7 linked regions of the Homo sapiens genome follow. The protein of the gene in region 1 purifies or fractionates together with the protein of each later gene. This does not show direct contact. Each region holds a gene or a part of one and is shown in the gene's direction. Other genes may lie near its edges.

The links.
Region 2: the proteins of DSTN (region 1) and KSR2 purify together in Homo sapiens (co-immunoprecipitation; one large-scale study listed by IntAct). This does not show direct contact.
Region 3: the proteins of DSTN (region 1) and UBA3 fractionate together in Homo sapiens (co-fractionation; one large-scale study listed by BioGRID). This does not show direct contact.
Region 4: the proteins of DSTN (region 1) and ISOC2 fractionate together in Homo sapiens (co-fractionation; one large-scale study listed by BioGRID). This does not show direct contact.
Region 5: the proteins of DSTN (region 1) and DNAJB12 fractionate together in Homo sapiens (co-fractionation; one large-scale study listed by BioGRID). This does not show direct contact.
Region 6: the proteins of DSTN (region 1) and URM1 fractionate together in Homo sapiens (co-fractionation; one large-scale study listed by BioGRID). This does not show direct contact.
Region 7: the proteins of DSTN (region 1) and AKR7A3 purify together in Homo sapiens (co-immunoprecipitation; one large-scale study listed by IntAct). This does not show direct contact.

The regions. Positions count from the first base shown.
Region 1 is NC_000020.11:17,594,075-17,597,574, forward strand, and holds part of DSTN (destrin), read left to right. Parts: intron 1-3,500. UniProt on the Homo sapiens protein: Actin-depolymerizing protein. Severs actin filaments (F-actin) and binds to actin monomers (G-actin). Acts in a pH-independent manner.
Region 2 is NC_000012.12:117,528,491-117,531,990, reverse strand, and holds part of KSR2 (kinase suppressor of Ras 2), read left to right. Parts: intron 1-283; coding exon 284-325; intron 326-977; coding exon 978-1,050; intron 1,051-2,933; coding exon of another isoform or gene 2,934-2,994; exon of another isoform or gene 2,995-3,445; intron 3,446-3,500. UniProt on the Homo sapiens protein: Location-regulated scaffold connecting MEK to RAF. Has very low protein kinase activity and can phosphorylate MAP2K1 at several Ser and Thr residues with very low efficiency (in vitro).
Region 3 is NC_000003.12:69,063,366-69,066,865, reverse strand, and holds part of UBA3 (NEDD8-activating enzyme E1 catalytic subunit), read left to right. Parts: intron 1-2,754; coding exon 2,755-2,798; intron 2,799-3,362; coding exon 3,363-3,427; intron 3,428-3,500. UniProt on the Homo sapiens protein: Catalytic subunit of the dimeric UBA3-NAE1 E1 enzyme. E1 activates NEDD8 by first adenylating its C-terminal glycine residue with ATP, thereafter linking this residue to the side chain of the catalytic cysteine, yielding a NEDD8-UBA3 thioester and free AMP.
Region 4 is NC_000019.10:55,458,843-55,463,123, reverse strand, and holds the start of ISOC2 (isochorismatase domain-containing protein 2), read left to right. Parts: upstream 1-1,481; 5' UTR 1,482-1,612; intron 1,613-4,281.
Region 5 is NC_000010.11:72,344,920-72,348,419, reverse strand, and holds part of DNAJB12 (dnaJ homolog subfamily B member 12), read left to right. Parts: intron 1-3,292; coding exon 3,293-3,470; intron 3,471-3,500. UniProt on the Homo sapiens protein: Acts as a co-chaperone with HSPA8/Hsc70; required to promote protein folding and trafficking, prevent aggregation of client proteins, and promote unfolded proteins to endoplasmic reticulum-associated degradation (ERAD) pathway.
Region 6 is NC_000009.12:128,381,374-128,384,873, forward strand, and holds part of URM1 (ubiquitin-related modifier 1), read left to right. Parts: intron 1-3,500. UniProt on the Homo sapiens protein: Acts as a sulfur carrier required for 2-thiolation of mcm(5)S(2)U at tRNA wobble positions of cytosolic tRNA(Lys), tRNA(Glu) and tRNA(Gln). Serves as sulfur donor in tRNA 2-thiolation reaction by being thiocarboxylated (-COSH) at its C-terminus by MOCS3.
Region 7 is NC_000001.11:19,282,073-19,285,770, reverse strand, and holds the end of AKR7A3 (aldo-keto reductase family 7 member A3), read left to right. Parts: intron 1-656; coding exon 657-753; intron 754-985; coding exon 986-1,085; intron 1,086-1,645; coding exon 1,646-1,775; intron 1,776-2,878; coding exon 2,879-3,040; 3' UTR 3,041-3,198; downstream 3,199-3,698. UniProt on the Homo sapiens protein: Catalyzes the NADPH-dependent reduction of various carbonyl-containing compounds, including aldehydes, ketones, and toxic products from cellular metabolism or environmental exposure.

The DNA.
Region 1 (3,500 bases):
TATCTCAAAAATAAATAAATAAATAAATAAATAAATAAATAAATAGCTATTTTTTACCTTCAGATCAATGGAAAGCCACTGGACTGTTCTAAGTATGGTGATCAGATTCATGTTTATGTAGAGGATGAATTGGAGGGTAAAGGTGATGGGCAGTTGGTATGGGCAGTCTTGTTGTATTAGAACTGCAATAACAAATTAAATTCAAAATCTCAGTGACTTAACACAGTAAAGATTTGTCTCTGTCACGCAGAGTCCAGAAGGGTTGGGCAGCCTTCTCCTATCATGAAGTATGCTTACCAAGGTCATCTTGGTGGGAGAAAACAGAGCTTTAAGATCACTTTTATTTAACTTTTATTTAATTTTTGATGTTTTAAAAATCATTTTATTGTGGTAGGATTCACATCTAAAAAGCTGTATTTAGTGTATTTAAAGATCACTTTTAAAGGGCCAGGACTGGAAGTAGTTTACATAACTGGGCCCAGCTTGGCTGTTCAGAACTCAAATGGCTGTTCAGAACTCAGTCATACAGCCAACTCAGCTTGCCAGGAAGGCTGGGGAATGCAGTCTTTCCTGTTCAGCCAAGAAGAGAAAACAGTATGATGTATACATATCCTAATCTCCCTCCTCTGCAGCCACTTGAGGAGTTACTGCAGTCCAAGTAAGAGGCAATGGAAGCTTGGACTGAGGGTGAAATGAGATGAATGTATCAGAGAAAGATGAAAATCCAAAGAGTAAGATAATGGAGGAGTTGCTAAGAACATCTCTTAGGCTTGGAGCCTTATGTGACTAGGAGGGTGGTGATAGCTACTGAGAAAGGAAGACTGGTTAGAAATGGACCAGCTTGTTTTTTATTTTAGACATGTTGTGCATCACATGCCTTTGAGACACACAACTGGAGATGTGAGATAGGAAGTTGAATGTAAAGACTAGAAGCTCAGAAGAGCAGAAGTCTGAACTAAGTTTTGGCTTAGATGATTGAAAGCTTGAGCTTGGGTAAACTCTCTGAGGAAGAATGCAGAGTTCGTCCTTTCCTTCCACACTGCCATCAGCCTCTGCTTTCCACTGCATTGTCCTACCACCCTCACCCCTTGACCTCAGCTGACCTTTTGGAGGTCCCCAGAGCCCTTTTTCTTGTCCTTAGGTAGTTCCTTTTGGAACTCCCCGTCATAGCTGTTCTGAATTGTTAGTAGTAGTAGATTGGAGGAGTGCCCTCAAACCCATCCTACTCCTCCTGCCTTATACTTCACAGAGAAAATAGAATCTTTCAGACACAATTTTTGGCAGTGTATCTTCCTTCCACCTCAAAACTGTCATTTTCCCTTCCTCCCTGTTTCAGAGAAAAAAATGTGTATCTTTTTCTTAGGCTAACTCTCCCATCTGTGCTGTGGATCTTACCCATTTCTTTAGATCTCTGATATTGTTAATTTTATGAGTGATTAAGATTATCTCCTCTGGAATTGCTTGAACCCAGGAGGCAGAGGTTGCAGTGAGCCGAGATGGTGCCATTGCACTCCAGCCTGGATGACAAGAGCGAACGTCCATCTGGAAAAAAAAAAAAAATCTCCTCTGGAGCCAAATTGCCAGAGTTCAAATCCCAATTCCTCTATTGTTTACTCTGTGACCCTGGGCAAATTATTTAATTTTGCTATGCATCTTTAAGATGCAAATAGTGATAGTAGCTGTCTCATAGAATTGTTGTGATTTAGAAGTGTCTAGCAATAGTAAGTACTCAGTGTATGTTTTAATTTTTTTTTAATGTTTTGGCTCTTCCTCTTTATTCCTTCAAGTTCTTAAATATCTAGAACAGTTACATCTCCCCAATCATAAGACAACTTGCATGAAGTACCATTCAATCTTCCCTTTTTTCTTCATTGTTAACCATCTTATGTTTTCTGTCTTTACCTCTTCAATTCCCCATGGGTCCCCAGTCCATTATGGTTGACTTCTGTCCCATTTCTCCCATCTGTTGAAATGTTCAGAGGCCCAATTGCCAAGCCCAGCGATCTGTTTTCATTCTCTGAAATACTGCAGAATTGGCTGTTGATGACTTTCCTCCTCAAAATATTCTCCCTTGCTTCTAAGATGCTGCTTTCTTCCTTCTTTTTCTTCTTAGTTTTCTGATTACCTCTTTTTAGTGTCCTTGATGGGTTTCTCTTTTTAATTTTTACGTACTCAGTGGTGAGAAACTAGATTGGTTTTTCTTTTGCTGCTTAATGTTGGTGACCCCATGGTGTGGGCTAGTCCAAAATATGGATTAGGTGAAGCCTTCCAACGAGATCCGTGCTCATATTTCTGCCACTGTCTGGTCATCTCCACCTAGATGTCTTGCACAGTCTTCAGAGTGGATGTGTCGTACTGTGCCATATTTCCTTTTCTGTTCATATATTGCAGTCTAGTCACTAATCGAGAGAATCCTGGGGCTTCTCTGATACCACTCTTTTGTGTCTCATTCAGCTATATTGGTTTGACTTTGACATGTCCTTGAATTTTTCTGTTTTTAACCTCACTGCTGTAGTTCAGAGCTTTCTTCTCTGAATATTTGTAATTGTGTCAAAATTGGTTTTCTGCTTCCAGTTTCTGTGCCAGTTTCTCCTTCAAGTATTCAGTGTTAATTTCCTCAAGCACAAGTGTCTAATGGTATAAGAAACCTCCACAGACATCACTTCTGATAGAAAAAAAGACAAAATTCTTCCTTACTGAGGCTTTTAAGGAGCTTGTAAGTTACAGCCAGATTTGGCTGAGATTTATCTGTTTTATAATTGCAGAATGCACATTTACTTTGTTTTTGATTACTAGTACATCATTGATTTAATTTACAAATCAGAATTTAGAATGTTTGAGATGCTTAGATATTGATTGATGTATTTAAAGATTGGTTGATTGAATATAAGGCTTTAGATGTTGCCTTCCTGCTTTTAGAAATTGCTTGTTGGGTCAAATGTGACTTCAACATTATGGACTAGGGAGTTAGAGGGATTGGGATCTGTTTCTAGTTCTTCAATTTTTGTTGCTTTGAACATTTTATTCATCTGTTGCAAAATGGAGATTCTTAACTTGCTTAACATAAGATACGTTGTAAAGATCAGAAATATGCTACTCCTAAAGCAGTAAAAGGTTTAAGAAAAGTGCTTTTTAAAATTAGGAATGTGGTAATATTGTGTACTTATGAGTTTTCTAGTCCTAATTTTCTGTTTCTGCCACTTTATTAGAGTGAATGTTCATTTATGAACAGAAAATGTGGAGTAGATGGCATTGGAGTGTGTTATTTAGAGATCTTTAATGAATGAGATGATGAAATAGCCCAGTTACCTTAATATTAAGTAAATGCTAGGATCTTAGTGTATCTTTCTCCCAGGATTCTTGCATGTGTTTTAAAGTGACAACTTTATTTTTATTTGTTTGTATAAATGTATGGGGGTACAAGTGTAATTTTGCTACATGCATGGATGGTAGCAGTGAAGCCAGATCTTTTAGGGTATCCATCACCCGAATAACATACA
Region 2 (3,500 bases), on another chromosome or scaffold:
CATTTCACAAAAATGGTATTGTAGTCAGAATGTCTGTTTGAGTTGGAGCAGTCTGATTTTAGGGAGTGTGAGATGTCAGATGGGAGGGTCGGCATGGATGTTTAGAGTTCTGGTTTCTTTACACATGTTTGCAGTCCCTTGTCTGCAGGGATGTCTGCAGAAGTATGGAAACTCTTGAAGGTGGGCAGAGAATGACCATGTGGTGGCTGTAAGAGCTCAATCTGGTCCCTGAAGCGATGTCTCCCTGGGGACACTCACTTTGATGTTTTCTTTCTTTTGCAAGCATCCCACTACTACAAATACAAGCAGCAGTTCATCTTCCCAGGTGAGTTTCATGTGAGCTGGAAGCAGCCCCTTCTGAACAAGCCCCGCTGCATTGCAGGAGTTTCTGGGATGAATGGAGGCAGATGTTGTGGGGGTGCCTAAGATCAAAGAGGGTAGTGGAGTCACCACACTCCAGGATAATGGCTGAACATGGAAGTGGAGAAGAAAGAGTGGGCACAGTGGGACCCAAGGAGGTCCCAAGGCACCGTGGAAAGGCCTGAGAGGGTGGAGTGCTGTAGAACACTGGGCGAGGGTGAGGAGGGGTCTAGAGCCATGTGGCAGGAAAGAGATGGTCATAGGGTCCTGAGCTGGGTACTGAGAGGATGTGAAACCAAGGGGCTTTATCATCCCAAAGGGAACCCAGGAGAAAGAAAGATTCAGAGATGACCAATGAATGCTTCAGGCTAGATATTTGAGGGTTCTGGCAGCCCCCTATTCAACAATGAGGAATTTTGTTGAGGATGTCATCCAGAACCCTGGTCCAGCTGAGCAGGTAGAGTCCAGGTGGTCCAGGAAAGGAGAAAGGAGATTGGCCAAGGGCAGAGATCCAAGATCTGGTGAAAAATTGGCTGCCATGTCGCCCAGGAATCAGGCCTTTGCGGGGGTTGTGGACTTCACATTTTTTTTCTGAGTGTTCAATCTCTGGTTTTCAGATGTGGTGCCGGTGCCGGAGACGCCGACCCGGGCGCCCCAGGTCATCCTGCATCCGGTGACCTCGAATCCAATGTAAGTGAGACAGAGACATCTTCCCCCTTTCCCAAGCTTCCCAGCCCTGGCCCTACAATCCACTCAGGTTCCCTATCTTCTTTCCTTCTCTTCCTGGAACTGATGGAGTTGGGGGCAGAGGGAGATGTACAAGGGGGTCAGAGAGACATAGGGAATAACTTAGGCAAAGAGAAAGGGCGTGACAGCTCAGACAGAGAGATGGAGAGAGAGGCAATGCTGTTCCTCACGAGCAGCTATGCCTTGTGTCTCTGACCCTGCCTGTCAAATGCAATTTCCAGGGGCTGGACCGTTTCCTAAGGACCCATAACCTCCCTGTGATTAGGAAGAAAACTTTCCCCGGGTGATAGCTAGTACTTAATGAAAGGGCAATTATTCCATGTCACTGAACATGGAATAACTTTCAAAAGTCTCATTGAGGTTTATGGAATCAGCAAACTATAGCCCATGGGACAGATCCAACCTCCTGCTTGTTTTTATTTAAAGTTTTATTGGAACACAGCCATGCCTATTTGTTTACAATGTATTGTGCATGGTTGCTTTCTCCATGCAGCAGCAGAATCGAGTAGTTGTAACATAATCTGTATGGCTTGCAAAGCCAAAAATATTTACTCTATGACCCTTTGCAGAAAGAAATTTGCTAACCTCTGGTTTATATTATTATAAAAATAATATAAGCTAATTTTGGAAAATGTGGGCTATTCTTTAAAAAGGGAAAGGCAAAATAATCACTCATGATCTCACCACTGTTAAAACTTCTATGTGTGTTCTTTCCATTTATATTTTACATAGTTATGACCCACAATATATGCAAGCAGCTACCATCCTGCTTTGTTATCTTTATGCCAAACATCACATTTTATGAATATTATTTTAGCCTCTCCATAGACATTGTTGGTTTTTGTTTTTTGTTTGTTTGTTTTGAGACAGAGTCTCACTCTGTCACCCAGGCTGCAATGCAGTGGTGCAATCACGGTTCACTGCAGCCTCAGCCTCCTGGGCTCAAATGATCCTCCCAGCTCAGCCTCCCGAGTAGCTGGGATTACAGGTGTGTGCCACCACACCCAACTAATTTTTGTATTTTTTTTTTAATTTTTTATTTTTGTAGAGACAGGGATTCACCATGTTGCCTAGGTGGGTCTCAAACTCCTAGGTGCAAGTGATCATTCCACCTCAGCCTCCCAAAGTGCTGGGATTACAGGCATGAGCCACTGCACCTGTCTGATATTGTTTTTAATGGGTGTAAAATGACATATTGATGTAGAATAATTTTCTTAACCATTTTCCTATTGCTGGATTTTACATTGCTTCCCATATTTCATTGTTGTAAATAATGCTGCAATGAACATCTTTGTGCATAGCATCCTTAGGAAACAGACCCTCTTTTCAGGTGGTTTATTGCTTGTGCAGCAGAAGTGAAGTCACCTTGGCCAGGCGCAGTGGCTCATGCCTGTAATCCCAGCACTTTGGGAGGGCAAGGTAGGAGGATCACCTGAGGTCAGGAGTTGGAGACCAGCCTAGCCAACCTGGTGAAACCCCGTCTATATTAAAAATACAAACATTAGTCAGGCGTGGTGGCACACAACTGTAATCGCAGCTACTTGGGAGGCTGAGGCAGGAGAATTGCTTGAACCCAGGAGGTGGAGGTTCAGTGAGGTGGGATTGTGCCACTGCACCCCAGCCTGGGCAACAGAGGGAGACTCTGTCTAAAGAAGAAAAAAGTGATGTCACAAAGTCACCTCCTTAACTTCTTTGGTTGCGATGGAAGCCTGGGGCTTGCTAGGATTTGACCAGTTTCCTAACTCACCTTTGTGCCTACTTAGTTTTTCTTCTGGGTCCCCTAACTGCTTCATCTTTTCTGACTGGTCTTATGGACTTTGTTAAAGACTTACATGGTACATCTCTGAAATCAAAGGAGCAGCAACTTGCCGGGGGATATGGTGCTGACATCTAGCTCGAGATCATTTCTCTGCTTCACATAAACCAATTCTACAATTTGTGCAAGATGAACTCCAGGTTATTAACTGACAGTCCAGAGGTACCAGCGAAAAACAGAGTCAATAGCTGCTTGCGATCTGCTTAAATGTGCGCGGAGTGATGACAACTCTTTGCAGAAGGAAATACTTGAATAGCCCTGGCTGCTGGAATCACGCCTTGATGCAGAGAGGAGGGTGGCCTGTTTTGGTTTTGGGCATGAGGAGGGACTCCAGCTGCATTGTCCCAGCCAAGTCTCCCCCAGGGCATCAAGTTCTCAGCATGTCAGCTGTCATCGTGCAGGTTCATTCCACTTTCCCAGGCTGTGCTATGAATAATTGGTTAATACCATGGCGAATGCCACTTTGTGGTTGACCTTTCTTTCTCCTTCTTTTAGTTCTTGTGGTCTTTCAGACTCTTTCACCAGGACCCCCTCCAGCAAGTGGATTGACTCTGTGGAGTCAGCCACTTCCTGCAAT
Region 3 (3,500 bases), on another chromosome or scaffold:
CCAATGGAAGAAGCATAGTCTTCAACAAATCGTACTGGAGCAATTTCATATCCATAGTTAAAAGATGAATTTTGACCTAAACATACAAAATTAACTCAAAATGGATTATAGGTGTAAATATAAAATATAAAATGAGCCAGGCGTGGTGGCTCATGCCTGTAATCCCAGCACTTTGGGAGGCCGAGGTGGGTGGATCACTTGAGGTCAGGAGTTCGAGACCAGCCTGGCCAACATGGTGAAACCCCGTCTCTACTAAGAATACAAAAATTAGCCGGGCACAGTGGCTCCCAGCTACTCAGGAGGCTGAGGTGGGAGAATCGCTTGACCCTAGGAGGCTGAGGTTGCAGTGAGCTGAAATTGCGCTACTGCACCCCAGCCTGGGCGACAGAGCAAGGCTCCATCTCAAAAAAACAAAAAAAAACACAAAAAACCATAAAACGATAGAACTTTAGGGTTTGGTGGAGAGTGCTTAGGCCACGTCAAAAGCAAGACCTGTAAAAGGTGGGGTATGGTGGTGCAGATCACTGAGGAAGCAGTGAGCTTTTATCATACCACTACAGAGTCCTGGCTGCTTGGGAGGCTAAGGTGGGAGGATTGCTTGAGACTAGGAGTTTGAAGCTATAGTAGGCTGTGGTCATACTGTGAATAGCCACTGCATTCCAGCCTGGGCAATGTAGTGAGACATCATCTCTAAAAAATTAAAATAATTTTTTGTAAAAGCATGAGCCATAAAAGGAAAAAATTGATACACTGAACTTCATCAAAATTAAAAACTTGCTGTGTGAAAGACCCTCTTAAACGGATGAAGAAAAGCCACAGACTGGAGAAAATACTTGTAAAGCATCTGATGGAGGACTCATATCTAGAGTATATAATGAACTCTAAAAACTCAACAGTAAAACAAAAAAAAATTCAATTAGAAAATAGACAAAAGATAGGAAGAGATATTTTACTAAAAAGGATGACGAAAAGCACATGAAAAGATGTTTCACATCAAACTAAGACCACCATGAGCGATACTGTTACACAACTATTAGACTAAAAAAAAAAAGCCAGTCTCAAAAGGTCATATACTGCATGATTCTGTTTATATAATACTCTTGAAATTACAGAATTATAGAGATGGCTGGGTGTGGTGGTTCAGGCCTGTAATTCCAGCACTTTGGGAGGCTGAGGCGGGAAGATCACTTGAGCCTGGTTGTTTGAGAACAGCCTAGGCAACAAATGAGACCCTATTTCTGTAAAAACTAGAAAAATTACCCGGGCATGGTGGCACATGCCTGTAGTCCCAGCTATGTGGGAGGCTGAGGCAGGAAGATCAGTTAAGCCCAGGATGTGGAGGCTGCAGAGAGATCTTTATTGTGGTCGAATAGTTATGTGTGTTGCCTGGGGTGGTGGTTACACAAATCTATGTGTGTTTAAATGACAGAATTATAAACACACATTGTACCAATGTTCTGTTCATGGTTTTGGTACTGTACTATAGTAAGATGTAACTGGGAAAGGTGCATGGTACCTACCTATACTATCTGTGCAACTTACTGCGAATCTATATTATTTCAAAATAAAGAGCTTAAAAATGCAAATACAGGCCCCTGTAGGGAAAAAGGAAGAGTTGGTGGGGGTGGGTTGGTTAGTGGGGGGCACTCAGTTTGTCTATCCCCATTATGTGGGTCTGGGAAACTTTGGGTATTTTCTAGAAATCCAGATTAGATTTCTTAGTCTGGCTCTTGGTTCCCTGATTGCCATTCCTCCACTGTTTGCTTTGTTTCTTTTTTGACCTCTTTCTAGCTGTAGCTTCGTTCTCCTGCTTGCCTAGCATTCAAAGGGAATAGAGGTCTGAATGACTGAGGGCTAGAATTGAAATTATTGTTCATAGCTTTATTTGTAGGCAAGAATTAAAAATCTAGAGGAAGCATGTATTGTCCCTTTTTTCTATGTATTGTCCCTTTTTTCTCTGTATTGCTTTTAAAAAATTTATAGTGGACTATTTATCTTAACTTTAGAGAAGTTGCATAATTTATAAATTATTAAACAATTGCTCCATTCATTAGAAAAATTAAAACAAGTTTTTGCACACATGTGCTATTAAAACATTAAGTGCTATATTGACTCACCCACAATCAGTTTTGAATGGAGTTTCCTTTTTAGCCTCCAGGGATGGGAAGACTGGTAATAGGATTTGGTAGGGTAACTTGAAAACTGAGTTAAATGAGAAAGGTAGAAAAAATTCGTACTTTTTCTCCTCCCCACAAAAAATAAAAACAGTAAAATCTTTACCAACTGAAAAAGCTGTTGAAATTTTCTGTATGTTAAAAAAATGAGCTTTGCAGTAACTCTTAAAATCACCTAGCAAAATAGGAACTATAATGTGCATCTTTCCTTCACTAAAACATTTATTGCATCTCTTCTTGATGCTGATGATTGAGGACACACATTCTGCTTTCCTGGGGCTTATGGTTTTATATAAAAACCAAAGCAAAGTAGAAAGTATACCTCCTACCAAGGGCATAAATATAATGATATAGGGGTTCAGGAATGAGAAAAAGTAAGTAGTTAGGGGAGGAATGGCAGAAAAGTTTTGTCAGAAAGGAGAGTTGTGTTCATTTAGTCAGATTCCTTGAATTCCACTGATGTGAACATTGATTACTTATTTCTTGTTGTAAATATATGCAGAGTGTGTTCCTTATGGCATTGTCAAATTCATTTTAGAAATTAAAACTTAGCTGCTTAAGTTCCTTTACTTGTATTCAGACATTTCAACAAGATTCAAGATTTTAACGACACTTTCTATCGACGTAAGTTTTTTACTTGAAATTAATGCTCACTAGATTCTTAGAATTTTTTAGTTGGTAGCTATTCAAATATTGCTAGCTATTTCAAGGCTATTTCTTCACTTGCTTTCCTCTCTCACTGTTGGCTTTTCAGTAATGTTGCTGATAGACTGAAAAGAGAATGCTAGTTTTAGCTGACATGACCAGCTACAAGTTTCTATGCTTACCTGAATGAGAGTTCACTCAAGGAATTGGAGCTCTGAGAACGTATGTGGGATTACAGTAAAAAGTGCTTGTGGTTTTTTTGTTGGTTTCTTAGAACGTGCAAATTGTTTTCTGCAAGTGCTTTTTTTTTTTAATTAGTAAACTTTATTTTTTAGGGCAGTTTTATGTTCACAACAAAATTGAACAGAAAATTTTTGAAAACTTGGGTTCTCATAGAGCTTCCTGTTCCCACAAACACACTACCTTCCTAATCAACATCTTGCACCAGAGTGGTACATTTGTTGCAGTTGATGAATCTACATTGAAAGATCATCATGCAACTACATATTTAAAAACTAAAGTTGCTTTTTTTTTTTTTTGTAGAATTTCATATTATTGTATGTGGACTGGACTCTATCATCGCCAGAAGATGGATAAATGGCATGCTGGTAAAGACTTTAGTATTGTTATAGTTCTCTGAAGTTCTTGCTGCTGTGCTTCACATCCCCAAAATTAGAATTG
Region 4 (4,281 bases), on another chromosome or scaffold:
TCTAGGACTTGAGGATTCAGCTGTGAACGAGGCAGACGGGACCCCTGCCTCAGGGAGCTCCCTGTTCTGTGTGCATGTGTGTGTTTTGGCGGGGAACAGACAATAAAAGAGTATATCCATGCATTTTTCAAAAAGCAAGATTCATTTCCAATTCAGATTGGAGTTAGTGCTGAAAAGAAAATAAAACACAAGGCCGGGTGCGGCGGCTCACACCTGTAATCGCAGCACTCTGGGAGGCCAAGGCAGGCGGATCACTTGAGCCCAGGAGTTCAAAACCAGCCTGGGCAACAGAGTGAGACCTCCATCTTTACAAAAAAATTAAAAAATTAGTCAGGTGTGGTGGCGCATACCTGTGGTCCCAGCTACTCAGGAGGCTGAGGTGGGAGGATCGCTTGAGCCCGGGAGGTTGAGGCTGCAGCAAGCTGTGATCGTACCATGGTACTCCAGCCTGGGTGATAGAGCAATTTTTTTCTTTTTTTTGATGTTTCAAAAAAATTAAAAACAGCGACCTGATGGAAGGGCTACCTGACACCAGGTGGTCAGGAAAGGCTTTGAAAGCCTGGAAGGTTGGGCCATGGGGAGTCCTAGGATTCCAGGCTGAGGCAGCACACGTGCAAAGGCCCTGCGGTGGGACATTGAGGGAAGAGCAAGAGGAGACCCCTGTGGCTGGAGCGGAGTGAGCAGGGGGAGTGGTGAGAGGCGAGGTCTGCACGGACCAGGAAGGCCGACCATGAATTGGGAGGAGTTTGGATTTATTCCAAGACAGATAGGAAATTCTCTCTTTCTCTCAACCTCCATTTCCAAGCACAGAGTCTAAATTATTCTAAACACCACCCGAGGAGGCAGGTGCTGTACAGATGGGGAAACTGAGGCAGCACAGAGCGCAAAGGACAGGGGGGCGTCAAATTCCTCACTTGATCGCTCCCTCAGCCAGCCCCTTCCTGGAAAGTGCTTGGGTATCTTTGTAAGCCTCCGTTTCTTGAGAGAGGGCCAGGTTTCGAACCGCAGACATGCCTCTACTCTAGGTAAGACCCCTCTCTCTCTCTCCCGGCCTCGGCGGTCTGCTCTGTGCAATGGGGCCGGCCGAGACGCCCTCTCTCCAGCCAGAGTCTGAGCCTTCGGAGACCACCGCGCGACTCCGCCCCGTCGGCCGCCACTCACGCCCTCTACGGCTCTCCATTGGCAGAACGACCTGCTGCCCCGCCCCCACGGCGCCTTTGCGAGCTAATCATTTTCTTGAGACTGACAGCCTTGCCGGCACCGCCCCCCCTGGGGCGGGAGCAAAGCAGCTGCATATGCGGATTGGTTGAGAGGCAGGGGGCGGGGTGAGTTGGTGAGCGCCGATTGCGGGCAGAGGCAGTGGCACATGCGGATTGGCCGGAGAGAGCGGCGAGGCAGAGCATGATGAGTGTCGATTGGACGGCTGGGCCCAAGTGGGCGGAAAACGGACGGTGCAGGGGGTGGGCCACGTGTCCAGCCCTAACGAAACGGTAACCAGCCCTGGGAAGCCCGCAAGAGGCCTCAGCGGTGGCCGTCCGAGAGCCGAGAGGTGAGGGTGCCCCCGCCTCACCTGCAGAGGGGCCGTTCCGGGCTCGAACCCGGCACCTTCCGGGTAAGTCCTCTCTCGCTGCTGGCGCTATTTGGAGACCGACCTTACCGCCTAGCAGATGGGGAAACTGAGGCTCTGCCTGGGCGTCCCGGGCCAAGGTCACAGGACCAGAAGGAGGACTCCACCTGGCCCCGCCAGAATTGGCTGGCCAGAGATTGGAAGCGTCCCCGGGTCGCGCCTGCCGCCTCTGTAACAGCGCTGGGGGGTGGGCAGGTTTAATCCCCATTTCTCCGACGAGAAAACTGAGGCTAAGACAAAGAGAAACTTGCCCAAGGTCACACAGCCAGGAAGTCCGGGCTCCAAGGCCGGGTTTCCGAGACCGGGTGGGGAAATCAACGGCCCTACCCCGCCCCCTGTTGCCGCCCACCTCCAGCCACGCCCCCTTTGGCCTTGGGTACCCTCCACCCAGGCTGAATCTCTCCTCGTTCCGCAGGACACGCCCAACCCTCTCCAGCCCAGACCTCCCCTTCACATCTCTCTCTCTCACACACCCACCCTCACCCCAATTTTTCATCTCCCAAAAACCAGTTCCCCTCCCCGGGATCCCCTATGAATCTTCAGATCATGCCCCTCGCTCGACCAGAAACTGGGGGCCTTTCTCCCCGACTTTCCCCACCGTCCCAGCTGCCCCTTCCTGACTCTCCCCTGTCCCACTGGGCCCCAGCGCCGACCTCCTGCTCTCTGGCCTTTTGCCTCCAGTTCAACCGCACGGCGGGGGCCTGAAGCCATCTTTGTATTTTGCATTTTGAACACTTTTTCTGGAATAATACCACAAACGCAGAAAATCGAACGGTTTGCAAATACACAGCTTAAATAAATATTTATAAAGGGAGCACCCTGGTGTAAACAAGTATCCAAAGAAAAAAGTCAAACATGCGCCACATCCCAGGATCTCCCGCCGTCGTCGTTTCCATCACTGTGGTCCAAGGGCAGTCACTGTCCTGGCTTCTGACGCCATAGATCAGTTTTGCCGGGTTTTGGCTTTATGCCAACCCTTTATTGTATATAGTATTGACTAGACAACTTGTTGCACATTGTCCAGAATTCAGAAGAAACAGAATAGGACCCAGTGAAAAGGCTCCTACAGACTTCCCCGGTGCCTGGTTCACCCGCCTGAGTCTCCCGTTTCTTGCTTGTTTGCCAGAGATAGCAGATATAGATATAGGCAACACAGACACATTTTCCTCTCCCTTTTTTCTTTGGCACAAAAAGGAGCATTCCATACACACTGTTCTGCTTCTTTTTCACTTCTCTCAAACATGTTTTCGTATTGTTACTTAAAGAGCTTCCTCGTAATTTTTTCTGGCTGCGAGGAATAACAGAGTATAGTTATGGCATGACTTACGTAACCAGTACCCTCATTGTGGACATTGATACTTAACTTCTGCTCCTTTGCTCTGGGGAAGAGTCCTGTAATGAATAATCCTGTGTCGTTTCACATGAATGTCTGTAGGATAAATGCTTAGGAGCAGCTTTTGAGGTCAGAGGGTTTGTGTATCCATCATTTTGAGAAATGCAGCTGCTCGGCTGTCCCTAGGAGTTGTTGTGACCCACACTCCTACCAGGCCAGAGGGGAGTTCCTGGGTGCTCCACATGCCTGTCCTAGGCTTTTGGACATGCTGGCCCCCAGATCTGCCCCTCCATGGCTCCTCACTGCCCTCAGCAGAGAGACTCCAGGGCCCTTGTGACCCACCTGTCAGCTCTCCAGCTCCTGGTTCCCTCAGAACCATCCCTTGGGGCCCGGGTGTCCAGGTCCCGCCTCCTGCACAGGGGAGGAAGAGTTAGCACATGAGTGGCCGTGAGAGGGTCACTCCATGGGGAGGAAACCGCAAGGGCTGTTTGAGAGGAGGGAGTGGCTGGGCTGAGGCTGGAGGGTCTTCAGAGCAGTGCGGGGCGGGGGGGAAAGGGGCGCCTGCATCTTAGTCCTGAGGACAGAGAGAATCCACGGGGGTCAGGGGACAGTTTGAGACAGGGGAGTAATAGCTTTGTGTTTTGTGAAAAGATCATTTTTCTGTCGTCAGTTTCTCTAGGAGAACACTGCAGCCCCTGCCAAGCTGTATCTGACTCCCTCCAAATCCCACTTATCACAGTTGTAATTATGGGATTAATTCACTGTGGTTTTGTTTCAGAGGGAGTTTCCATTCAATTTTATTTAATGAGATAAAATTTGCACAACATAAAATTGACCATTTTAACCATTTATTCGTTTTTAAACTTGAGATATGGTGCACATAGAAAACATTTGCTATGGTAGATGGATTATGTTCAAAGAATAATAGGCCAGGCGCGGTGGCTCACGCTTGTAATCCCAGCATGTTGCAAGGCTGAGGCGGGAGGTTCGCTTGAACCCAGGAGTTCGAGACCAGCCTGGGCAACATAGGAAGACCCTGTCTCTAAAAATATAAAAATACAAAAATTAGCCAGGTGTGGTGGCATACACCTGTAGCTCTAGCTACTTGGGAGGCTGAGGTGGGATGATCACTTGAGCCCAGGAGGTTAAGGATGCAGTGAGCTATGATTGCGCCACTGTACTCCAACCTGGGTGACACTATGAGACCCTGTCTCAAAAAGAAAAAATAGTACAGGGAGGCCAAGGCAGGAGGGTTGCTTGAGGCCAGGACGAGAGAGAGAAAGAAAGACAAGGAACAACAGTGTCCTAACTACCCAGCTTT
Region 5 (3,500 bases), on another chromosome or scaffold:
ATCCAGATGCCTGTTTTCCCAGCTGGTCAGCTTGTCAGAGGCTTTAGGATTTTACTACCCAGGGCGCTGGGGCCCAGGCCTGACTGAGGTTTCGTGCCTGGAATAAATGGACACAGGGACCTGCTGCCAGAGACTTGGGCCCTTCCTCATTTAATCTGCAGGAACCACAGGCTTGTTTTTGCTTGCTTTTGTTTTTTTGAGATGGAGTCTTGCTCTGTTGCCCAGGCTGGAGTGCAGTGGCACAATCTCAGTTCACTGCAACCTCTGCCTCCCGGGTTCAAGCGATTCTGTGCCTCAGCCTCCCGAGTAGCTGGGATTACAGGCGCCTGCCACCACGCCGGCTAATTTTTGTATTTTTAGTAGAGACGGGGTTTCACCATGCTGGCCAGGCTGGTCTCAAACTCCTGACCTCAGGCGATCTGCCCGCCTCAGCCTCCCAGAGTGCTGGGATTACAGGTGTGAGCCACCATGCCTGGTGGGCTTGGTTGTTTTTGTTTTTGTTTTTCTGAGACAGAGTCTCATTCTATTGCCCAGGCTGGAGTGCAATGGCATGATTTCGGCTCATTGCAACCTCCGCCTCCCAGATTCAAGCCATCCTGCTGCCTCAGCCTCCCTAGTAGCTGGGATTACAAGCGCCCACCACCATGTTCGGCTAATTTTTGTATTTTAGTAGAGACGGGGTTTCACCATGTTGGCCAGGCTGGTCTTGAACTCCTGACCTTGTGATTCGCCCGCCTCGGCCTCCCAAAGTGTTGGGATTACAGGCGTGAGCCACAGCGCCCAGCCGGGCTTGGTTTTCAATAGCCATGATGCTGCCGAGGGTGATAGTTAATGTCCTGTATAGACTCCAGACATTGAAGAGGACATTTGGCATGGCCAACCACTTGCATTAGAAAAATGTGAAAAATAGCAAGTTGTGAGCACAGCAGATACTTCTTTTGGTCTCCTACCATCTGTGTCCCCCTTGGGCAAACTCATTTCCCCCATTCCTCTTTACAGCTAAGCAAAGGCCTCCAGGAAGGCTTCCTGACTGATCCCACCTGAAACAGAGGGTCCTGCTAAGCGGGGTCCCCTTTGCAGGGTACTTTTCCCAGCTTGGCACTCAACATGCCAAGTCTGTTAAACTCACTACTTTGAGATCTTAAAAATCTGAAGGGTTGACTGGGCACAGTGGCTCATGCCTGTAATCCCAGCACTTTGGGAGGCCAAGGCAGGCGGATCACTTGAGGTCAGGAGTTCGAAACCAGCCTGGCCAACATGGTGAAACCTCATCTCTATTAAAAATACAATTAGCCGGCGTGGTGGTGTGCACCTGTAATTCCAGCTACTTAGGAGGCTGAGGCGGGAGAATCGCTTGAAACCGGGAGGCAGAGGTTGCAGTGAGCTGAGATCATGCCATTGCACTCCAGCCTGGGCAACAGAGTGAGACTCCGTCTCAAAAAAGAAAAAAAAAAAAAACCAATGGTAAAAATAGGGAGTAGTGCAGTGGACTGAATATTTTACTTATTCAAAATGTGGTGCAATGCAAACATATTTGCAGATTTGAATGAGTTCAGTAGAAAAAAATGGATTCATAAGTTGGATTCATAAAAGCAAAAAGCAGAGTAAAACCAAATACACTGAAAGAAATAGCAATTAAAGTAGTATTAAATGAACTCTAGCAAGGCACGGTGGCTCATGCCTGTAATCCCAGCACTTTGGGAACCCGAGGTGGGCAGATCACTTGAGGTCAGGAGTTCGAGACCAGCCTGGCCAACATGGTGAAACCCCATCTCTACTAAAAATACAAAAATTAGGCCGGGCACGGTGGCTCACACCTGTAATCCCAGCACTTCGGGAGGCCGAGATGGGTGGATTGCTTGAGGTCAGGAGTTCAAGACCAGTCTGGCCAACGTGTTGATATCCCATCTCTACTAAAATACAAAAATTAGCTGGGCATGGTGCTGGGCGCCTGTAATCCCAGCTACTAGGGAGGCTGAGGCGGGAGAATTGCTTGAACCCAGGAGGCGGAGGTTGCAGTGAGCTAAGATCATGCCACTGCACTCCAGCCTGGGCAACAGAGCAAGACTCCGTGTCAAAAAAAAAAAAATTAGCCAGGCGTGGTGGCACGTGCCTGTAGTACCAGCTACTCAGGAGGCTGAGGCATGAGAATCACTTGAACCTGGGAGGTAGAGGTTGTAGTGAGCTGAGATCGCACCACTGCACTCCAGCCTGGGCAACAGAGTGAGACTCTATCTCAAATAAACAAACAAATAAAAAAAAATAACTCTAAATAAAGTACTATAGGGTTTATTAATAAAACCAAGTGTGCTTTTGGAAGACTATCAGAATATCAGAATTCTGCCTAAATTTATTAAGAAAAGAGATATATGTATAAGTATACTATCTGAAAAATAAAGCAATTACTACAGATTTATCCATGAATTATGTAGAATTTTATGTCAATTTTTATTAACAAAATTAATTTTGTTCATGTAAAACGAAAAAGACCTCTATCCTGCCTACTTTTTTTTTTTTTTTTTTTTTGAGACAGATCCTTGCTCTGTCGCCCAGGCTGGAGTGCAGTGGCACAATCTTGCTAATCTCCACCTCCTGGGTTCAAGCAATTCTCATGCCTCAGCCTCTCAAGTCTCTCGAGTAGCTGGGATTACAGGCGCCCACCACTATCTCCAGCTAAATGTCTTTTGGGGTTTTTTTTTTTGTATTTTTAGTAGAGATGGAGTTTCACCATGTTGGCCGGGCTGGTCACAAACTCCTGATCTCAGGTGATCCGCCCGCCTCAGCCTCCCAAAGTGCTGGGATTACAGGCGTGAGCCACTGTGCCCGGATTTTTTTTTTTTTTTTTTTTTTGAGACAGGGTCTCACTCTGTCACCCAGGCTGGACTGCAGTGGCACCATCTTGGCTCACTGCAACCTCTGCCTCCCTAGTAGCTGGAATTACAGGCGCCCGCCACCACATCTGGCTAATTTTTTAATTTTTAGTACAGACGGGATTTCACCACATTGGCCAGGCTGGTCTCAAACTCCTGACCTCAGGTGATCTGCCTGCCTCAGCCTCCCAAAATGCTGGGATTACAGGTGTGAACCACCACGTCCGGCCTGTCCTGCCTACTCTTAAGGACTATGGCTTTCAAGAGAGCAGATGACTGTCCCCCCAGCACCCACAGGCCTAATCAGGGCAGGAGCTGGTGGCTTTGCTGGGAGGGGAAGTGAGTGGGAAGCAGCGGGCCGCTCGGCGAGGCACGCAGCCTGCTTGAGCAGGAGCTCTGAATGGTTTCCTTGCCTTGCACAGCCCTGATTGAGTCCCTCAACCAGAAACCACAGACTGCCGGTGACCAACCCCCACCCACAGACACAACCCATGCCACCCACAGGAAAGCAGGTGGGACCGATGCCCCCTCGGCCAACGGTGAAGCTGGAGGAGAGAGCACCAAAGGCTACACTGCAGAACAGGTTGCAGCTGTGAAAAGGTAGATGGGTGGGCAGGGGCTGGAGCCTGG
Region 6 (3,500 bases), on another chromosome or scaffold:
AGGTGGTCAGCAGAGGTCTCTTTAAGGAGGTAACATACCAAGGCCAGGTGCAGTGGCTCACTCCTGTAATCCCAGCACTTTGGGAGGCCAAGGTAGGCGGATCACCTGAGGTCTGGAGTTAGAGACCAGCCAGGCCAACATGGTGAAACCCTGTCTCTACTAAAAATACAAAAATAGCTGGGCATGGTGGTGGGCACCTGTAATCCCAGGTTGAGGCAGGAGAATCGCTTGAACCCTGGAGGTGGAGGTTGTATAGTGAGCCGAGATCGTGCCACTGCACTCCAGCCTGGGCGCAGAGCAAGACTCCGTCTCAAAAACAAAAAACAAAACAAATAAAAGGTAGAAACCAAAATTTAGAGAAGTCAGGGGTCTCACCCCAAGTCATAGAGTTATTTAAATAGCAGGGTTGGGATTCAGAACTAGCTTTCAGGCCACTGAATTTCAGAGTCCTGGCGCTTTGCCACTAACCCATCACCGTCTATCCCAAGAGGCTCCCTGAATTACTCTAACATCTTACATTTTCCAGTTTTTACGCTTTCCTTCATTTATTTATTCATGAGTTCAACAACTACTTATTTCAACTTTCAGATGACCCCAAGAGATAAGAGACCCCTAAAAGAGAAAGAGAAGGAGGGAGGGACCTGAGGCCTGCCCAGAGTTACCCAAGTAGGGAGGCTGGGCTGGGACTCAGATTTTTTTATCCTTCATCTTCCAGCCACTGTTCAGGGAACAGGCAGGGGCCTATCCCCACTCTGGGAAGAAAGGAGGGGAGTGGGAGGGAAGGCACAATGGCCCACTTAGTCTTTGGCTCCTTTGCTGTGAGTCCCTACACCTGGTTCCTGTTGTGCCCAGAGGCATGGGTCACACAGCAGACCCATGGTAACCTAGGTTGGTGACCTAGGTCACCAACAGAGCTGGTTAGCAGCTGCCAGGCCTCACCCTGGCACATGTGAGCCCAGCTGGGGGTCAGGGGCCTGGTGCTGCTAGGAGAGTCTTACCCTTCCCCCAAGTCCATGCCCAGATATGTCATCTGGCAGACTTCCCAGCCTAGGGGCTGCCACTTGGCCAAGCGAGTCTTGGAGGTTCCAGCAGAAATAATAGCAGCCGTAAGATTTCAGAATGTGACAAGCCTCACAAATGAGGGAACTCGTGGCTCCTAGGCCAGGGGAGAGCTTCCAACCCAGCCAATTTGGGAGAAATGATGAGCAAGGCCTGAGGGAGTGAGACTGCGAGAGAGGAAGCCTGGCACGCGCAGTTGCACATCACTTATTCCTGCCAGACTCTTTCTTCCCTATCTGTAAGATGGGAGGTTGGGCTCGCTCTGTATGTTATTGAGCTGGTTGTCTCTTTGACATCTATAAGAAAAGTTTCTTCAAGATCCAAGTATATACAATTCGGTGAAGCAGAGTGTGCTGACCCAGTAAGAAGTTGTGTGAGAGAAGGGATGTCTTAACAGCCATCTCGCTGAAACGGCCATGCAGGCACCCACCAGCTTAGGGTATTGCGGCTGCTGGGAGTTGGCCTCTGTGATTCAAGCATCCCTTTGACCCAAGGCCCCCTGCCCAGGCCCCAAGTGTAGACATGGCCGCCTCACCTTTCCCTGCCTGTCTTCCCCTGTCCTGCCTTTGTGCCCCCTCTGCCTGCTCCACTTGTGTTAAAGGGTGGCTGGTGAGGGAGGGCAGGAGCTGCAGGAGCTCCTGGGCGCTTTAAACTGCTTAGCATGCATTTCACAGCCTCTCTGGGGCCAGCTGTTCCTTTCTCTGCTCTCAGGGCCTGTTTGCTGATCCCCTCTCCACCTCCCTCCTCCCCACACCCCTCCCAGTCCCTGTGCAAAATTGCTTTTGAAAAGATCCACTTTCTGCTTAATTAAACAATGAGGAGGTCCCCTCGCACATCTGTAAACCTCCTTCTGAGGCCAGTTTAGCCCACAAACTGCTCCATTCTTACCCCCATTCACTTGTAAATGGCCCCTCTGATGTTCCCTCCACCCCCTCTCCTCTGTTACTCCCCCCTTGCCAGCTCTTTCTTTTCCCTTTTCAACTGAGGCCTGGGGTGGGCTCTCCGAAGAGCCGTCTTGGAGCCTGGTGGACTTGGTGGGGACAGAGGCAGTTTAACCTGTGGAAGAGAAGACTTAGGGGATCCTTTCTTCCAAATCTGAAGGGCCATCCTGGGGAAGAGGGGGTGCATTTGTTGGCATGGTCCCCGTGGACCATTCAGGCCCAGTGGGTGGGAATGACAGGAAGACAGATTTCTGCTTGGGAGAAAAGAGCTCTTAACAATCAGAGCCGCTCCACAGAGGAGCTGACCTCCTGTCCCTGGAGGTGTTCAAAGAGAGGCTGGATGAGGGTCTGTTACGCCTGCGAGTCAATATCAGATACGACTTTGAGGTTGTTCCGTTTCAGTCCCACGAGGCTGAGGCTGACACCCTTTGGGGCCCTCCCACAGTGGGCAGTCAGTGTCCCCCAGAATAGGACAAGTCCACCGGGGCGAGGGATTCTGGTGGAGCTTGCGTCGGTGCTCTCCACAGTGGGTATCCTCCCTTTGGCAGCAGCCTTTAGAAGGTACTGGAGCCCAGAGGATGAGGAATCTGAAGTCACTGTGGGCTTACAGCTCAGAGCAGCCATCTGTTGAGCGTGTCCTGTGTGTGTGACACTGCCAGGCCTGCCTTGGGCATTGTGCCTTACGTAATCCTCAGCAGCTCTTGGTGTTTGGATTATTATCCCTGCTTGTCAGAGGATGACACTGAGACAGCAAGATGAAGTGACTTCCTAGCTAAGGCCATCGAGCACACAGCCGAGGTCCTCTGGCTGTAGACTCAGAACTCAACCACTCCAGCATAGAGCAGCAGCTCTCATTGCCTGCTCTGCCCCCGATGGGCAGGCCAGGTGCCAAGGTATCCTGCACTGGAAACCTTGTATTAAGTGCCCATCTCCTTCCTCTGGTGCTGTGTGCCCGGGGGCAGCCTGGCCGCCAGCACCTACAGACTCAGAGTGTCATTCCTACCACCTGGGTTGTACTGGGAGCATTGGCCAACCCCAACATCTTGTGGGTTCAAACATCTAACACAGAAGGAAGGTCAGTATCTAGGACCCCTCACTACTCTCGCAGTCCCCTCATTCCCTTTCCAGCTTCTGATGGGAAGATACGGGATGCCACAGAAAACCCCAGCCGGTCCCAGCACTATCTGATTAATGGTTGGCTCTACCTTGCCCTCTAAAGCTGAGGTGCCAGGCCACTGGGCAGAGCGTGCAGAAACCCAGAGAGCGCGAGGGGTATAGGTTCTTCCTCTGGATCCTGGAGTAATTACAGCATTGATATGCAGGGCACAGTGCTGAGAGCTTTGTATATATCGTCTTATTTGATCCCCCACAATGACCCTATGAGACAATGTTAACATCCCCATTTTACAAAAAAAGGAAGCCGAGGCTTCCTATTACCTAAGGTAATAGAACTAGTAAGTGATGGAGTCCAGCTCAAAACCAGGCCTGTCTGACTCCAGG
Region 7 (3,698 bases), on another chromosome or scaffold:
CCTGCAGATGGCTCCCAGGTACCCTCAGGATGCCATTCAAGCTCCTCAGGCTGGCCACTGGGCATCTGCTTCCTTCCTGCCTATCTGTGCACCTTGGACCCTTCCTTCCCTACCTTCCCCTGCACTCAGCCTGGAACAAGCCCTTCCCCCACCACCGCCCCTTCCGTGAGAGAATGGTTCAGGTCTCACATACGTGTCTCTTCCTCTGGAAGCCTTTCTAGATGGGCCCAGAAGACCCTGAGACCTCAGGTCCTTGTTTACCTCCTCATGATTCATTGCACAAATATTTGCACACCTGCTTGGTGCCAGGCACTGGTCACAGAACTTTCTAGTCTATTATGATTGCCTCATGACTTGATTATAACTGTTTATACTTGACCTTATTATAAAACCTTGAGGGAAGGGACCCTGTCCTTTTGGCTTAAGAATCTAAATCTGACAACCAGCCCATAGTTGGTGCTCATGAAAGTTGGCAGAATGAATGAATTTTCCATGGGCATAAGCTTCTTTCACCAGCACCAGTTAGAATAAGTATACGCCCAGACGGTTAAAGTCCTAGAATTGTTAAGGTCTGAAATAAGGGTTCTGGAAGGGTAATTTTGAAGTCTCTTCTTTTGACACATCCACCCTCTCCCCCGGGGCCCCTCTCCTTACAGGGCATGTACAATGCCATCACCCGGCAGGTGGAAACGGAGCTCTTCCCCTGCCTCAGGCACTTTGGACTGAGGTTCTATGCCTTCAACCCTCTGGCTGGTACGTGGAGCATTCCTGGCCCTGTCTCAGCCTATTCCCGACCCACAGATGCCCAGCCCAGGACCTGGGAAGCAAGGAGGGTTTGACAAACTTTGACCTCTGAGGTCAAAGACGTAAAGGCTGCATCTTCAGCCCTCCTGGGTCCCTGCCCCTCCCCTAGACCAGAGCCCTGAGGGATGTGGCAGCTTCTGGGGCACTCTAGGCCCCGGGGCTGATTGCTGCTTTCCCTCAGGGGGCCTGCTGACCGGCAAGTACAAGTATGAGGACAAGAATGGGAAACAGCCCGTGGGCCGCTTCTTTGGGAATACCTGGGCAGAGATGTACAGGAATCGGTAAGCTGTGGGTGCTTGGTGTGGATGGCTGGGGTGGGGTCAGCTTTATGTGGAATGAAGTCCTGGGCTGCTCCTGGGGTAAGGCCTTTCCTCGCTGCTGCACCTACTCCCCTGAATTTCTTCGGGAATTTCCAAACCCTCCATCGGTTTTCTTGTTGTCTTGGGACCTCCAGGAGGAAAGGAGACTCCCTGGACCTCGGGGTCTTGAAGTCGTTGCTCTTTCCTGAGCAATCACCTGCTAGGAAGGAAAGAAGGAGCTCTGGAGGGAGGTCCAGGAGGCCTGGGGCTGAGTCCTGACCCATCTTAGCGGCCTTTGTGTCCCTAAGGAAAATAAGAGCAGGCTGATGAGTCCTCAGGAATAAAGATTTGTTGAGGTCTCTGCTGAGGGGCCCAGCATCCTGAGTGGTTCTCTTGCCCAGCAAAGTGGGAGACCCATGGCTAGAGAGAACACCTGCCCCTCAGGGCTGCAGGGTGTGGGGTGGGACAGTGGCCCTGGTTGGCTCTTTGGTTGTGGCTCCCAATGTGGCCCTGACACCTGTGCCACCGTCCCCCCTTCCCAGCTACTGGAAGGAGCACCACTTTGAGGGCATTGCCCTGGTGGAGAAGGCCCTGCAGGCCGCGTATGGCGCCAGCGCCCCCAGCATGACCTCGGCCACCCTCCGGTGGATGTACCACCACTCACAGCTGCAGGTAACCAGTGACCCTGTGCGCTCAGCTTCTTCCCTTCCAGGGGAACCAGCAATATCTTTAGATGAAGGCTGAAACATTTGTTTATCGATTCCTCTGAAATTTCTCTTTCTTTCAACTCTCACAAACATTCTTCCCACTGGTCTTTTTCTATGTTTTTTTTTTGGGGGGACAGAGTCTCACTCTGTCACCCAGGCTGGAGTGCAGTGGCATGATCTCGGGTCACTGCAACTTCTGCCTCTTGGGCCGAAGCAACTCTCTTGTCTCAGCCTCCCCAGTAGCTGGGATTACAGGCGTGCGCCACCATGCCCAGCTAATTGTTTGTATTTGTAGTAGAGACAGGGTTTCACCATGTTGCCCAGGCTGGTCTCAAATTCCTGAACTCAGACAATTCGCCCTCCTCAGCCTCTGAAAGTGCTGGGATTATAGGCGTGAGCCCCTGCGCTCGGCCTTCTCATTGGTCTTTGATGGTATCTGAGTGCCAGGCTTTGTAATGAGAGCTTCATTGCAGGGATTTCATTATTCCTTCAGCTTTATGAAATGACTATCCCAGTGTTATTGACGAGGAAACTGAGTTTCACCCAGCTATGAAAGGGGCAGACATTTTAACACAGGTTTAACTGTAAAGCCCACTAGTCTCATCCTTTTGGTGGGAGCTGGAGTTTCCCTCTCTCAGTGCCTCATGTCTTCCTCACTTATATCCAACTCCAGCCTTAGATGTTGCAATAGTGTCTGGCATATATACAGTAGGTGCTCAATAAATGGGAGCTAAGTGCTCTACATAATTTTTCACACCCATAACCATGTTGAAAATAGAAAAGAGGATTGAATCTCAGAGAGGTTTAATAACTTAGCCGCGTTTACACAGCTGCTGGGGGGCAGAACTGGGCTGTGAATGTAGGTCTGTCTGGAAGCGTCGTGTGGCAGTAGGGGAAGGGATACAGGTTTTGCGTCACATGGGTACAGCTATCCAAGGCACCTTAAGTTCTTTCTGGACATATGGGATACAAGAGATCCCAAATCTCAGCAGGGAGGTGGCTGGGACGGCTGTGAGTAGAGTCGCTGTGCAGCAGAAGAGGGTTGAAGTCTGGCCGTCTCCCTTGCAGGGTGCCCACGGGGACGCGGTCATCCTGGGCATGTCCAGCCTGGAGCAGCTGGAGCAGAACTTGGCAGCGGCAGAGGAAGGGCCCCTGGAGCCGGCTGTCGTGGACGCCTTTAATCAAGCCTGGCATTTGGTTACTCACGAATGTCCCAACTACTTCCGCTAGGCCCATCGTTTCTCAGGCTGCCCAAGGCTCTTCTGTAACATCTTTTGTTACTCACATTTTCTTTAATTTAGAACTGCCTCAGTAAATTCTTAGGGATGGAAGTATTTGGACAAAAACCTAATAGAAGAGTCACCACCAAATGAAGAATAAAACTCCCAGGGTGCTGTGTGTTAGTCTGTTTGCGTTGCTATAAAAGAATACCTGAGACTGGGTCATTTATAAAGAAAAGAGGTTTATTTGGCTCACCACTCTGCAGTCTGTACAAGGGGGTGTGGTGCCGGCATCTGCTCTTGGTGAGGGCCTCAGGAAGCTTACAGTCATGGCAGAGGGGGAAGCGGCGCCAGCGTGTCACATGGTGAGAGAGGGAGCAAGAGACAGACAGGGGAGGAAATTCCAGGCTCTTTTAAACAACCAGATCCTGTGTGAACTCATAGAGCTGGAACTCACTCATTACTATACAGATGGCACCAAGCCATTCATGTGGGATTTGCCCCCATACCCTAACCCCTCCCACCAGGCTCACCTCTAACATTGGGGATCACATTGCAACATGAGATTTGGAGGGGACAAAATACCCTGATGATATCATTGTACCAGTACCACCCCCCCGCAAATGTCATGTTCTTCTCACATTGCAAAGTACAGTCATCCCTTCCCA